Linked DNA regions of Homo sapiens: all the other regions are linked to region 2. The links come from fine-mapping of genetic effects on gene expression. A gene starts in region 2. Each other region holds a variant in brackets. All regions are shown on one strand. Distances are between the middles of the regions. Region 1 has its middle 36 kb from the start of BDKRB2. Region 2 holds the start of BDKRB2 (bradykinin receptor B2). Region 3 has its middle 1.5 kb from the start of BDKRB1.

The links. PIP is the estimated chance that this variant, and not a neighbour inherited with it, causes the effect. A credible set is the group of variants that fine-mapping cannot tell apart.
Region 1: its variant is the best candidate, but not a certain one, in a credible set for the expression of BDKRB2 in fibroblasts (GTEx, PIP 0.53).
Region 3: its variant is the best candidate, but not a certain one, in a credible set for the expression of BDKRB2 in esophagus mucosa (GTEx, PIP 0.76).

The regions. Positions count from the first base shown.
Region 1 is chr14:96,166,989-96,169,831 of GRCh38, reverse strand. No RefSeq gene overlaps it. Among named protein-coding and RNA genes, the nearest start is that of BDKRB2, 36 kb to the left of the region's middle. The variant G/TG (reference allele first, on the strand shown) is at 1,382.
Region 2 is chr14:96,203,282-96,206,124 of GRCh38, reverse strand. BDKRB2 (bradykinin receptor B2) reads right to left here and starts at 1,286. Exons shown (of 3, transcript NM_001379692.1): 1 at 1,166-1,286. RefSeq lists an enhancer at 950-1,825.
Region 3 is chr14:96,253,493-96,255,992 of GRCh38, reverse strand. No RefSeq gene overlaps it. Among named protein-coding and RNA genes, the nearest start is that of BDKRB1, 1.5 kb to the left of the region's middle. RefSeq lists an enhancer at 2,288-2,500. The variant C/A (reference allele first, on the strand shown) is at 976.

The DNA.
Region 1 (2,843 bases), 36 kb after region 2:
GCACGAAGAAAGCCATGTCAAGCACAGGGAGACCGCACAAGCCAAGTTTAGGAGGCCTGGGAGAGAACCCACTGCCCACAGATTGGGAGATAGTGGGGTGGCTGGACATCGGGAGTTCTAGGAGGCAAGGGAAGAATTAGGTTAGGGCTGGAGTGTAAAGGGACGTCAGTGTCAGCTTGAGGAATCTGGATGTCTTTAATAAGCAATGGAGAGGAACTGCGGATTTGAGAACAGGGAAGCCACATGCTCTGTGCTTTGGAAAGATTGATAGTGGCAGGGTGGGAGTGGACAGCAGCCAGTCACCCCACTGTGCCTCGCAGACAGCAGGGTTAGAGGGGGCTGCACTGGGGCATAATCTTGGCAAGAAAAAGAAAAGTGGATTTCAAGAAACTGAGTAGTTAGACTGCATGGGACTCAGAGGCTGGGTAAATGTAGGAAGTGGGTGTGGCAGGCACAGGCAGCTGATTGCTGATCCAATATCCATTCTTCTCTTTCTTCCCAGCAGAAACTCAGCTTTGTTCAGGGAAGCAATGTGATTAGTTACTGCTCACCTTCCTAGGTGCCTTGCAATTAAAGGTGGTCAAGTAGCCCAGTTGTGACGATGCAACGTAAACAGAAATCCACCAGGCAAAGCTGCTGTTTCCTATATAAAAGGGAAAAATTCAGGTGACATAAACCTTTCTTCCTGCTTGGAAAGTTGTTGCAATGTCTGGAGGTAGAGCATCTCTCTTGTGATCATGAGGAAGAGAGTTTTGAGGTAAGGAGGGTGGAACAGGATATAATGAGGAAGCTGAGCTCTTAGTGGCTTTCTCACACAGGTGCAAAGCTCCAGACTGCCTACCTCCAGATATTTTGCCACATAACACAGAGATCCCTCCTTGGTTAAGCCACTGGAGCTGGATTTCTGACGCATGGAGTTCAAGCCAATTCTACCACATACAGTGGGGATGAAGACCATGTGGAGGTTGATGCTATCAGCTAAAATTCGGAACCCTGGAAGGGTAACAGGTTTGGAAGGATCAGAGTGGCAGGAAAAGAGCCTGCCACCTAGAGCCGGGATGGCCTGTGGCCAACTGGGGCCCTAGGAAAATCCTTTACCCTACTTGGTCTCTGCTTCCTGATCTGTGAAATGGAATTTTAAAGCTCAATTTTTGAGAAAACCAGAAACAACAAGTTCATCTGATACATGCTATGGGTCCCCAGCAATTTACGGATTTTTTTTTTTTTTGAGATGGAGTCTTGCTCTGTCACCCAGGCTGGAGCGCAGTGGCATGATCTTGGCTCACTGCAACCTCCGCCTCCTGTTTCAAGCGATTCTCCTGCCTCAGCCTCCTGAGTAGCTGGGACTACAGGTGCGTGCACCACACCTGGCTAATTTTTT[G/TG]TATTTTTTAGTAGAGACAGGGTTTTACAAGGATGGTCTCGATCTGACCTCATGATCCACCTAGCTCGGTCTCCCAAAGTGCTGGGATTACGAGCATGAGCCACCGTGCCTGGCTGATCTTTTTTTTTTTTTTTTTTTTTTGAGATGGAGTTTCATTCTTGTTGCCCAGGCTGGAGTGCAATGATGCGAACTTGGCTCACTGCAAACTCTGCCTCCTGGTTCAAGTGATTCTCCCATCTCAGCCTCCAGAATAGCTGGGATTACAGGCATGCGCCACCACGCCCAGCTAATTTTGTATTTTTAGTAGAGATGGGGTTTCTCCATGTTAGTCAGGCTGGTCTTGAACTCCTGACCTCAGGTGATCCACCTACCTCGGCCTCCCAAAGTGCTGGGATTATAGGCATGAGCCACCGCCCCCGGCCATGGATTTATTTTTGTAGTGCCAGGAGAGAGGAACCCAGCCTTGCTGAGGGATTGATGGCAGTCGAAGATCAGAGAAAACAGCATGAGACAGGTGCTGAAAACTGTGGCTCCCCGGGGTTCAGCCCAAAGGGTCCTTCAGCTTCCCATGAGATGAGGACACCATTTAGTTGATGGTGAGGCCCATGAGGGCTCCCCTGGTGGGGCTGGCAGTAGCCCGCCCACCTCTTCTTCTTGGCCAGCACAAGGATGTTGAATGTGGAATGACATACAGACCAGACACAAAGATGGCTAAATGTGGGGTGGTCAGATGTTTGTAGCTCATCCTCCATATTACATTCCGTGCAGCTACATAAACTCCAAACAGCAAATAAACAGAGCTGCTGGTAATGTGTTTATAATGGCTATTAAGAAGGGAGGTGACTTCTACTCGGGGATTCCACAGGGTGACTCAGCTCTTGTTTACCTCCCTCTGGTCATGGACTGCTCATTAGCAACTGGAAGACTGTGGAGAGGCAGCTGAATGTTTTGGAGCCAGTGTCTTACAGGACCAAGATCTCAGAAGTCAGGGAATCCAAGGGCCAGAGGGACACTGAAACCATCTAGACCCTCACCCATGGGAGCTTGATCACCCTTCTCAGTTTCCTGCCAAGCTGGGGCCCAGCCCACCTCCCTACCTCCAGGGATGAGGACCTCACTGCCTCTTAGAACACCCATCTCACTGAGCCCTTGAGCACCCTGTGAGCAGGCTGCAGGTCTTAGTCAACTTGTACCCTCAGAGCCTGGCACAATGTCAGACTCCAGAAGTGTCCATCCAGTTCTCTTCCACCCAACGCCAATTTTTGTTGAGGCTTGAGCGAGGTGGTGGGGTGTCTGAGATGATTAGCATGCAGTACCTGGCCTTGAGGATCCCAGAGACTGAACAGGGAGGCAGGGAAGTGAACTGGCCATGATGACATGGTGTGGTGGGTGGCCCAGTGGCAGTCATAGGCACAATGCAAGTGGGCACTCACAGAGGGACTCTGACCTGGCACTAGGGGGT
Region 2 (2,843 bases):
GCACAGTTTTTTCTCCAGAGAACCTCGGGCAGGGCCTCTTTGCAATGTCCTCTGGGGTTGCTTACCTGTTCCCCCACCACCTAAGCCCTTCTCCAACTCAGAAATGGAATTAGGGGCGGGGTTGGCCAGGGAGGCCCCCATCACCCCACACCCAGGCCAGGGCTCCCACTTCCTGTAGGCTGGGGAGCCACAGGCGGCCTGTGACTCAGTGAGGCACATTCTGACCTGCCTGGAACAGCAACACCTGCTGTTCACCTCCACCCAGGCTGCGGAAACGACCTACTCTCAGCAACTCGAATCACGGCTGCCATTTATTTAGTGCCTATGACATACGTGGTGCTTCACAGGCAAGAGCCTACCTCTATCTTTGCATAAAGAGGAACTTCCAGGTCTTCTTTATAGCTCAGGAGACAGGACAAAATAACTCGCCCAAAAACGTCACCCACAGGGTGAGAGCAGGGCTGGAGCTGCAACCTGGGCCGGATGCAAAGCCGGTGCTTGGAACCCCTGCACCATCCTATCCCCCTGCCCTGGTCAGCCAGGACCGTGGGAAGAGGGTCTCTAAGCCCATCTGAGGTAGTCACTACCACCTGCCTCCTGGAGGCGCATCAGCCAACATTCACAAACCCCCCCACCCCCGCCTGCTTCTGATTTAACCCTGCCACCCCCAGGGAGCCAGCGAGCTGGCTGCTTTGCAGACAGAGAAACTGAGGCTCAGAGAGGTTGAATAGCTTGTCCAGGGTCACACAGGGCCAAGGAGTGGCACAGCTGTGGGTGAAAAGCCAGGTTCTGGAGCCTCCACCCAGCACCCGTCCCTGCTGCACCACACACACCTCGCTGCCTTACTCCAAGGTGTCCACTCAAAGTATGTGAAAATCCAATCACGAAATCCCTCACACACTGGACACACACAAGCCTGTCTGTCACCTTGATTCAGAGAAGAGAAACCTACAACAGACAAACAGGGCGATTCCTCCTGCTGGGAACCCTTCTCCCCATCGCCTGTCAGACCTCCCCTCCGGAAGGAAGGGAACTTTTCCCAACTCCCCACGACCACAGGGAAACTTCTCCCCGCTGCCTGCCCTCCCTCCCTCCCTCTGTGCTGGGACAGTTTGTCCTCCCAGCAGAGGTGAGGCGGCTGGAGCAGCCCCTGCCCGGCACCCACCTTCTCCGGAGCAAGCGGCATGGGCACTTCAGTCGCTCCCTGGTACTGCGGGGCAGCCTGATGTCCCCACCGTCCCCACCGTCCCCACCCCTCCTCGGAGCCCAGAAGCCAGAGCTGGAGTGGCGGCGGGAACAGCTCATCTTTCAAGGGCTGGGTAGTGATGTCATCAGCCTCCTGGGCACTTCCCCCTCCGCCTCCAGCTGAGCTCTGCACTCCTGCCCAGCTGGAGCCAGGCTGGCTGTGGGGCCGGGAAGGCTGCGGCCACCTTCGCTCTCCGCTCTGCCACCCTCTGAGCCCTGGGGGCCAGGGAGGCTCTTGGAAGATTTCCATGTTTGCGTAGCCCGGCTGCCCGTTGGAGTCGTGGGACGGCAAAAACGTCCCTCCCGGCTGACCACAAAGTGGCCTGGGAAGCCCCATGTGAATAAATTTGCCTCGCGTAACATTTATTTCTTATCATTATTTATCTTCTTGAGGTGGTTATTTTGTGTCTGAGTTTTGGATGTAAACAGTGGGCGTTTACGCGGAAGGTGTAAACAGAGGGTGGCCAGGTGGGCAGGCGGAGTCCTGGGATTTCTTTGTATGCCACGTACGGCTCCCAAGGGCGACAGTGGCAGAAGCTGTCCTGTTTCCTGGGTACGGGTGTTTGCGCTCCCCTGAGACACGCGGCCGTTTCTTCGGAGATGTATGGCGGAGGTTTCTCCCATGTCAAGGCTCAGGCTGGCTTTCTCAGTTTTGCTCAAAGACTTACTAACTATCTGCAGCACTTTACACTCCCAGGGCTGAGACGGTAGGAGCTGGAAAGGGCAGGGACTTTCAAAACATTTTTTTTTGAAGCCTTAAAACCCTTCCTTCAGAAGAGAACAGATAAGAGTGGGCCCAGTGGATCTGGGGAAGAGACAGGAGGGCCAGAGGACGTCCCCCCAGCCCATCAGCTCCTCTTCCCTGTGACTTGATTCATAACAAGCCTACAAACCAGCAATCAAGCCTGATCCCATCATCATGGAGACAGGGAAACAGAGTCTCAGATCAGTTTATGGGTGGCCTGGGCGCTAGCCCTGGCTTGGCTGTGAACTGGCTGTAGGCTCTTGAGTGAAGGCCCTCCCTGGCCTGGCTGTGTGGTTGACTCATCTGTGCACCTGGCTGTTCAACCACATTGGGGCTCCTTAATCTGGAGTTTCCTGACTTGCCAGTTGGGGACAGAGGTCTATGGACAGGCTGCCCAGAGTCCACAAGCCCTCTGAAAAGGTGTGTCTGTGCTTTATCCCCTATGGAGCCTCATCTATAGCTTTCACTAAAATATTGAAGAGCTCTGAGATCCACAACATATTGAGACCTGCATGAGCGTCCAGAGACCCTCTGAAGTCTCTTCCAACTTAGATATTGTAGAGCTCTGTATCTATGAGTTGAAAATCCTCAAGGATCTGAATCCAATGTTGATGCTTCTGTAAATATCATTGACAGAAATCTCTAAAAGACATCTGTCCATCTGCACACATCTCCATCCATCTCTGTCATATAGTTTTTTAAAAAGGCTACTTTAAACCAGTTTTGAGGTCCTGGCTGGAGGCCAGCCAGTTCATGAGCAGCTGATTAAGTTCACATTCTGGCCCTTTCTCTTACCAGGTTCTCACACTCTGGGCCACTAGCCACCTGCCCTGATGGCCTTGGAGCCAGGTAC
Region 3 (2,500 bases), 50 kb before region 2:
AAGACCTGTATGTTGGCAAACACGCCCTAAAAACATGTTTTGACATCGCCAACTTGCCCCAAGGCTCGCAAAGTGTCAGTGAACATTGAGGGATGGCTTTTGGCCCCTTCACTATTGGCTTCTGAATGTCTGGGGCTCTGCAGCAGCTTTTGTGGGAGCCACTTCGAATGGCCTCTTTTGAATTTTGGTCATGAAAGATACATCGCCAAGAATCCATCAGAGTGGACCCATCACACAAACAGAGAGCTAGGAAAACGTTTGACTCATGCAATGTTCAGAGTTGAGTAAGACCAGATACATTTTTTCCTAATCCTCCTTGGCGTCTCTCAAATTATGTCTGCATGGGTCAAGTTGAACTACTCAAGACCTCATGTTTCAGACAGTAAGATATTTTTGGCTTTGAGAATCAGGTGACAAGATTCTCCAACTGAAGGCCCCTTACCTGTCAACTTACAAATTAAGATCTTTCCAGGCCACCCCCTACACGTAGGAGAACTCATTCATGCCAGAATTCAGGACTTCGAGTCTGACTTCTGGAAAGGTGACCCTCCAAATGTTTGGAGCAGAAGGTGTCACCTCTGTCTTTAGAATCTTGCCTTTTGCTTGTGTTCCCTTTTTCTGCTAGTGACATCTCAGCGGGAGCCAACTGCACTTCAAGTTTTCCTGCTGTCTTCTCCTGTTGCTGAAGACCTTAAAACTGTGGAAGTAGGTGGAACAAATAGCATTCTGAGGCTCAGTAGCGGATGTACATTTCAGGGAAGAAGCTGGAATTTGCCTTAGAGGATAGGATGGTCCCCTCCTATCAGGAGAGACCTCCTGGGTGGGATTTTTAATAAAAAAAAATTGTCAACAGGCAAGCATCTTCCATTACTCCCGGGATAGATCTGAACCGGAGGAAGGCTCCAAATCTTAGCCTTTCCTGTTACTTAGTAATGTAGGCGGGGGTCTCTCCAGCCCGTGGCTGGCTTATTCTCC[C/A]TTCAGTATGAGTTTAGACTATACTGTTTCTGAGAAGCGTTTGTTCTTAGGAGATGTCTCCCTGTTTATTCACCCAGGAGTGCGTATAAGGCCAGCTCTGCCACAAAGAGCACGTGCAGGTCTCATCTCTGCTTTGCCTCTTGCTGGAAGACAGTCTGTGAAGAGAGCTGGCCTGAGTGAGCTGGACTTCGGAGATGCATCTGGCTGCCTTGCCAAGGTGGTGGAGGGCGGAAAGGAAAGTTCTTTAAGAAGACCCACGTTTCCCCTTGTTGCTCATCTCCACGGGAAATGCGAGACAGGCCCGGGCTCAGGGGAGCAGAGGGTCTCCTACTGTCTCTGGGGCCAAGGGAGTGGGGCTGAGGGCAGGGGGAGGGGACCCCAAATCTGTGAAAGAAAAGCAGGTCCCTATAGTGTGGCAGAAGATAGCAGGGGACTAAGAAGTGGGTAGGCACTGAGGACCCTCTTCTGAGGCTTCGCTTGCCTTTTTTCTTTTTTTTTTGAGACTGAGTTTCGCTCTTGTTGCTCAGGCTGGAGTGCAATGGAGCGATCTCGGCTCACTGCAACCTTCGCCTCCTGGGTTCAAGCGATTCTCCTGCCTCAGCCTCCCGAGTAGCTGGGATTACAGGCACACACCACCACACCCAGCTAATTTTGTATTTTTAGTAGAGACGGGGTTTCTCCATGTTGGTTAGGCTGGTCTCAAACTCCCGACCTCAGGTGATCCACCCACCTTGGCCTCCCAAAGTGCTGGGATTACAGGCGTGAGACACCGTGCCCGGCCAATGCTTGCCTTTTCTGAATTTAGTTGTTTGTAATTCCCACAGCCTCTATAAGGTTTGGTTAAACCTTACAGTCTGATGTGTGCTGTGCTTGATGAAGTCCCCTGGGTACTTGGGTGAAGAGGTGGTCACAGAGGATAAAGGCCTGCCTCTGGAAATAGAGGACAGGCCAACCTTCCCTGGGGTGTCCTAAATACTAGTGAGGGGGCACTCCAGGCAGGCTGGACTCCCTGTAGTATGCGTGGGCTTGGGCCATACTGGATGTGTATTCAAGGGAAGGTGAGCTCTGGAGTTTGCAGCCCCTGGGGACATGCAGTCCCAGTGCCCACTGTGACATCAAGGGCCACTTTTCAGTTCTCTCATCCATCAGTCCTGGAGTTTTTTTCTCCTTTACTTTTCTAGTCATATCCAGCAGGTTCTTCAAAATGAAAGACTCTAGTACATGTCACCCAGCAGACCTCTACAAATAGCACCCAGATGCTGAGCCTCTCCAGGGTTCGTTCTTAGTCCTTACACGACATCTGATGTCTCCAGTATTCTCCCAATTGTAGACGGAGGACAGAAAGCCACAGCTGGGCAGAATTCTTGCCAGGATGAAATGCAGCACCCTCACTGTGGTCCAGCTCGTGTCCTTTCACCCCCGACCAAGGCTGTTGGCGGTCACACCTTTCTTCCCATCACAGGGTTTAGAAACTCATGCAACGTACATACAAGTCTGCAACAAAGGACTGTAAACCAATCTCCTG